2 separate regions of the Homo sapiens genome follow, and region 2 is linked to region 1. Evidence: fine-mapped expression QTL. A gene starts in region 1. The other region holds a variant in brackets. All regions are shown on one strand. Distances are between the middles of the regions. Region 1 holds the start of HEATR3 (HEAT repeat containing 3). Region 2 overlaps HEATR3 (HEAT repeat containing 3).

Evidence for each region.
Region 2: its variant is fine-mapped to the expression of HEATR3 in whole blood (INTERVAL, PIP above 0.99).

What each region holds. Positions count from the first base shown.
Region 1 is chr16:50,064,409-50,067,320 of GRCh38, forward strand. HEATR3 (HEAT repeat containing 3) reads left to right here and starts at 1,562. Exons shown (of 15, transcript NM_182922.4): 1 at 1,562-1,861; 2 at 1,959-2,131. The coding sequence starts at 1,724. HEATR3-AS1 (HEATR3 antisense RNA 1) reads right to left here and starts at 1,916. Exons shown (of 3, transcript NR_186390.1): 1 at 1,645-1,916; 2 at 283-399. RefSeq lists an enhancer at 1,370-1,664 and silencers at 1,515-1,564, 1,895-1,944, 2,025-2,284.
Region 2 is chr16:50,093,393-50,096,304 of GRCh38, forward strand. It overlaps HEATR3 (HEAT repeat containing 3), which reads left to right. Exons shown (of 15, transcript NM_182922.4): 12 at 1,313-1,401. Among named protein-coding and RNA genes, the nearest start is that of HEATR3-AS1, 29 kb to the left of the region's middle. The variant T/C (reference allele first, on the strand shown) is at 1,569.

The sequences.
Region 1 (2,912 bases):
ACTTCTGTTACTCTCTAAAATTTGCCATAGTAATTAATTTCCCTTACTGGACAGTCAACTCTTTGACAGTAGGGTTACCATGGAATGGAAATTTTCTCCAGTAGAATGTTGACCTGAGCCTGGGCGTGGTGGCTCATACCTGTAATACTAGCACTTTGGGAGGCTGAGGCAGGCAGATCATTTGAGATCAAGAGTTCGAGACCAGCCTGACCAACGTGGTAAAACCCCGTCTCTCCTAAAAATAATAATAAAAAAAAAATAGCTGGGCATGGTGGCACATACCTGTAATCTCAGCTACTTAGGAGGCTAAGGCAGGAGGACTGCTTGAACTCCAAGGCAGAGGTTACAATAAGCCGAGATCGCACCATTGCACTCCAGCCTGGACAGCAGAGTGAGACTCTGTTTCAAAAACAAAAAGAAAAAAAGAAAATTGACCCAAAGCTATGCATATATTGAGTACTCACTCGTTACATGTCTAATTATAAAGACCACCTAAGATTCTCCTGTACTTTTCCCTCTGCTTAGTATTTACCACAATTATAACCAAAGTTATTCATATAATTATATATTCAACAGATCTCTCCCTGGACTGTAAATTCCATAAGGACAGGGAGAGAGGACAGGAACCAAACTGTCTTGATTACTGCTTTATTCCAATGCCCAGCACTGTACCTAGTACTCAACAAATATCTGCAAAAGAATCTCTTTGTTAAATACGTTTCCAAACATTTACATAGTGCTTAGTATCTGCCAGTCTCTGTTCTTAGCACCTTAAACATATGAACACATTTAGTCTTCGTAACAACTCCATGAGGTATATACTATCGATGTCCCCACTTCACTGATGAGGAAACTAAGGCAGGGAGATTAGGTTCTTAAGCGATTCTGTTTTATCAAATATAGACACACATTCGTTCCAAAACATTAACTAGTCTCTGTCTACGACAGGAGCTATGGGAGGTGCTGGGGACACAAAATAAAATCGTGGTTAATGCTTTTTGAGTACCTGCTATATATCAGGCTTGGTGTTAGGCACTTTACAGAACTTTATGAACTTTACAGAACTTACAATAACCTTGCAAGTTAGGTATTCTTAATCACATTTGATTATTTGTAGCCGGTGTTACTAACTTATTGGTTGCTTGATTGATTGATTGAGACAGGGTCTCGCTCTGTCGCCCAGGATGGAGTGCAGTAGCAGGATCACGGCTCACCTCAGCCTCAAACTCCTGGGGTCAAGTGATCCTCCGGCTTCAACGTCCCAAGTAGCTGGGACTACACACACACGCCACTATGCCCAGATAATTTTTAATTTTTTTGGTGGGGAGGACAGGGAGTGGAGTGTTTTCCTATGTTGCCCAAGATGGTCTCGAACTTCTGGCCTCAAGTGATCCTCTCGCCCGGGTCGGCGTTACTATTCTAGTCCAACCTCCTACTTACCCGGTAAACCCACAAGGCTCCGCCCCTTTGCCGAAGCTGGCCCCGCCTATGCCCTCTTCCACGCCTGCGCGCTCCGTGCGCCAGTTCCCCCCACCCCGCCCCGCCCCAACCCCGACCCGGCAGACGACGCGCCGTGCGCCTGCGCACGGCTTGCCCATGTGTGCTGCAGCCGTCAGCCGGCCCAGCTGAGCAGCAGCAACGGACCTTGTTAACGGCGCGGCAGCCTCCACCGCCTGCTGTTGCCCTCCTCTCTCGGTGGTCTGTCCGCCCAGCGCACGTCACCATGGGCAAGAGCCGGACGAAGCGCTTCAAGCGACCTCAGTTCTCCCCTACGGGCGACTGTCAGGCCGAGGCGGCTGCGGCGGCGAATGGGACCGGAGGCGAGGAGGACGACGGGCCGGCGGCGGAGCTGCTGGAAAAGGTGAGGCGAGGGCTCCGTCGGGCCGGGAGGCGAGACGAGGTTGCCCCGCGCGCGTGCGCATTGCGCGCCTTCTGACCCTTTTCGCTCTCATCCGCAGCTCCAGCACCCGAGCGCCGAGGTCCGCGAGTGCGCCTGCGCAGGGCTGGCCCGGCTGGTGCAGCAGCGGCCGGCACTCCCGGGCCTGGCGCGACGAGACGCCGTGCGCCGCCTCGGGCCGCTGCTGCTAGACCCCAGCCTGGCCGTCAGGGAGACTGCAGCCGGCGCGCTGAGGTGAGCCAGGAAGGGTGCGGGGCGGTGCCCACCGCTGGCCTCCCCCGCGTCTGGGCTGCGGGCGGTCGCAGCGGTCACCCAGCGCCTTCTGTGTGCCATCAGGCACTGGCCCGGTCTCCCGTTTGCAGAGATTTGAAGCCAGTCTCCAGGCTCCGGAGAAGCCCAGTATCCCCGCATCTCATCTGTCCACCTGGCTGCTTCACCTGCAGCGTCCACCTGCTCAGGCGTCCTGCCCTCACGCCTTGCGCACGTTTTACACTCTCCAAAAGCCCTCCTTAGGGTCCCTTGCTTGGATGAACTCTTCAGTTCATGTGTCAGGAATCGTTCTAGATGCAGGGGACTTTGAGCAGCCAAGACTTTTGAGCGAGATCTGTTGACAGCCAAGATCCCTGTCTTGGCACAAGTCATGTTGATGGGGAGACAGACAGGAAGCTAGTAAAAAGGTAAAACATAATATTAAATAGTGAGAATTGCTGTGGGAAAACGAGATGATGATGAGTTGGGGGTGGGAAGTTTGAATTGGGTGCTCTTGGGCCGGGCGCGGTGGCACACACCTGTAATCCCATTGCTTTGGGAGGCCAAGGAAGGAGGATCACTGGAGGCCAGGAGTCCAAGGCCAACCTGGGCAACATAGCAAGACCCCGTCTGTAGAAAAATTATAAACAATTAGTCGGGCATGGTGGTGGGTGCCTGTAATCCCAGCTACTCAGGAGGCTGAGGTAGGAGAATCGCTTGAGCCCAGGAGTTCGAGGCTGCAGTGAGCTATGATCACACCACTGCA
Region 2 (2,912 bases), 29 kb after region 1:
ACAATGTCTAGGCCAGTGGTTCTCAACCATGGCCACTTATCCCCTCCCACCTCCCACCTGGGGACATTTGGCAACGTCTGGAGGTATTTTTGGTTTTACAACTTGGAAATTGCAACTGGTGTCTAGAGGGTTGAGGCCAGGAATGTTCCTTCACATCCTACGGTGCCCAGGAGACCCCTGCGCACACATAAAATGAAGAATTATCTGGTCCAAAATGTCAGTAGTGCAGAGGCTGAGAAATACTAGTCTAGGGCCTCTGCTGGAAGACTCGCAGAGTATGGGCTGGAATCATCCGAAGTCTTGTTCACTCACGTGTCTGGCAGTTGGTGCAGGGGTTGTCAGGAAGAACACCCACAGTGACCTCTTCATGTGACGCAGGCTTCCTCATAACAGGATGGCTGGGTTCCCAGGGCGGAAGTCGAGAGAAAAAAGAGCATGCACACATGCGTCAGGGCTGGAAGTCATACTGCCTTTTGTGACCTAGCCCGTCACTTTGTATTCTGTTGGTTGAAGAAGTCACAAAGTCCCACCCTGATTTAAGGAAAGGAGAAGTAGATTTCACATCTTTATGGGAAGTGGCAAGGTTCTTGAAGATCACACAGGACTTGAAATATTGCCATGGCCATTTTTAGAAAATACAGTCTACCACACCAAGCAAATCTCTTCCCATCAAAGAGGTTAAGGAGCCAACTCCCCTGGGTGACCCTCACTGTCCCTTGCACGTGCCTGTGCCAGCATAATGGCTTACTGCTGGTGTTCTGTTTGTCCCGTGTGGGAAGAAGGGACAATAAGAAAAGTGTGCGAATAAGGAGTAGGAGTGGGAAGGGGATGCTGGGTCAGTTAAAGTGATGGTGCCATCATGTCCTGGCTCTGCACAAGCAACAGTGTGTGGCTAAGCAGTGGGCTTGGGTTGGCAAGGAAGCATTCTGACTCCACCAAAGGTAGTTCTACCCAGCACCCTGATGGAGATCTATGAATGACAGAATTCAGTCTGCAAAAGCTAGCTTAGGTTTATTATGTGCTGAAGTGTGAGTCAAATGAAAACCCAGTGTCTGGAAGTCAAGGACTGTCTGTAGAACACCTCCTTGCTGTGATTATTTTAACCACGATCATCTTTCAGACTTAGGTATAGAGTGTACAGGGGGCTGTTAACTAAATATTTTGGCTTAAATATCGAGGGTTTTTTTTTGTTTGTTTGTTTTATTAAGAATAGCATTTATTAACATTTAGCATGCTTTGTTTTGTTTGTTGCTTCTACAAAATAGCCTATCTTGGAGAAATGCAAATTTTATATTTCATTTTTGTGTTTTAGATTTTGCTAAACATGTTGACTTTCTAGAAGCCATAAGTAGTGCTTTGAGGGCCCTTTTGCAAACAATGGCCTCCAAGAACATTTCCCAGGTAAGAGTTTTAAAATTTTTTGTATGAAACTTGTAAAGATTGTGTATTATGGAGGCAAAATTCATTACTTCACTATTTTAAAAAATACATATTTCTGTTACAAGAATAATATGTGATCTTTGTAAAAAATAAAACAAAAGTGATTAAAATAAAAAGTAATATCTTTC[T/C]GCTCCCTACCATCAGCAACACACAGGTGCTTTTAATTTAATTTTTTAAATTTTTTAATATATAGGCTTACTAGCAAAACAAGTGCTTTTTAATCAATACAACTTAATTGATAGATATGTTGTAAATAATTTCTCTATCATTGGTCTTTTTTTTAAATCTTTTTTTTTTTTGAGACAGAGTCTTCCTCTGTCGCCCAGGCTGGAGTGCAGTGGCATGATCTCAGCTCACTGCAACCTCTGCCTCCTGGGTTCAAGTGATTCTCGTGCCTCAGCCACCCAAGTAAATGGGATTACAGGCATGCGTCACCACAAAATTTTTGTATTTTTAGTAGAGACGGGGTTTTGCCGTGTGGCCAGGCTGGTCTTAAATGCCTGACCTCAAGTGATCCACCCACCTTGGCCTCCTAAAGTGCTGGGATGACAGGCGTGAACCACCGTACCCAGCTTTTTTTTTTTTTTTTTTTTTAACATTTCATTACAGACTTTGCAAGCATGCCCTCCTGACCCTTCACAGCAATCCATGTGCACTTCATCTCCCATAGGTGCCTTACCACTTTTGCTACTTTTTACTAAGGAGACTTTTAAACATTCCTAAAAGCAGAGATAATAATGTTGCTTTGTTTTTTGAGACGGGGTCTTACTGTGTTGCCCAGGCTAGTCTCCTGGATTCAATCCTCCCACCTCAGCCTCCCAAGTAGCTGGGATTACAGGTGTGCGCTACCATGTCCAAAGCAGAGATAACCCTATGAGCCTGCATGCACCGTCGCCAAGCCTCAGCAGGTTATTAGCGTCCTGTCATTCTTGTGACATGGTTTCATTCATCTCACTGGGTCCTTATTTTTGTTTCCTGGAGTATTTTAAAGCAAATCATATTAGACCCATCAATATTTTATTATGTAGTTCAGTATGCATGTCTGACAGAAAAATAAATTTTTAAAAATCTTAACCCCAGTACCATTACCCCAAGGCTCCAAATTAACGGATATTTCTTATTATCCTTTGGTTTGCACTCTGAGTTCAGTTTTCCCAGCTGCAGTCTAAGTTCAGTTTTCCCAGATTGCCTTAAAAATGTATTTTAACATGGCCAGGCACGGTGGCTCACACCTGTAATCCCAGCACTTTGGGAGGCTGAGGCGGGCAGATCACCTGAGGTCAGGAAGTCAAGACCAGCCTGGCCAACATGGTGAAACCCCGTCTCTACTAAAAATACAAAAGTTAGCTGGGCATGGTGGCGCACTCCTATAATCCCAGCTACTTGGGAGGCTGTGGCAGGAGAATCACTTGAACCTGGGAGGCGGAAGTTGCAGTGAGCCAAGATCATGCCACTGCACTCCAGCCTAGGCG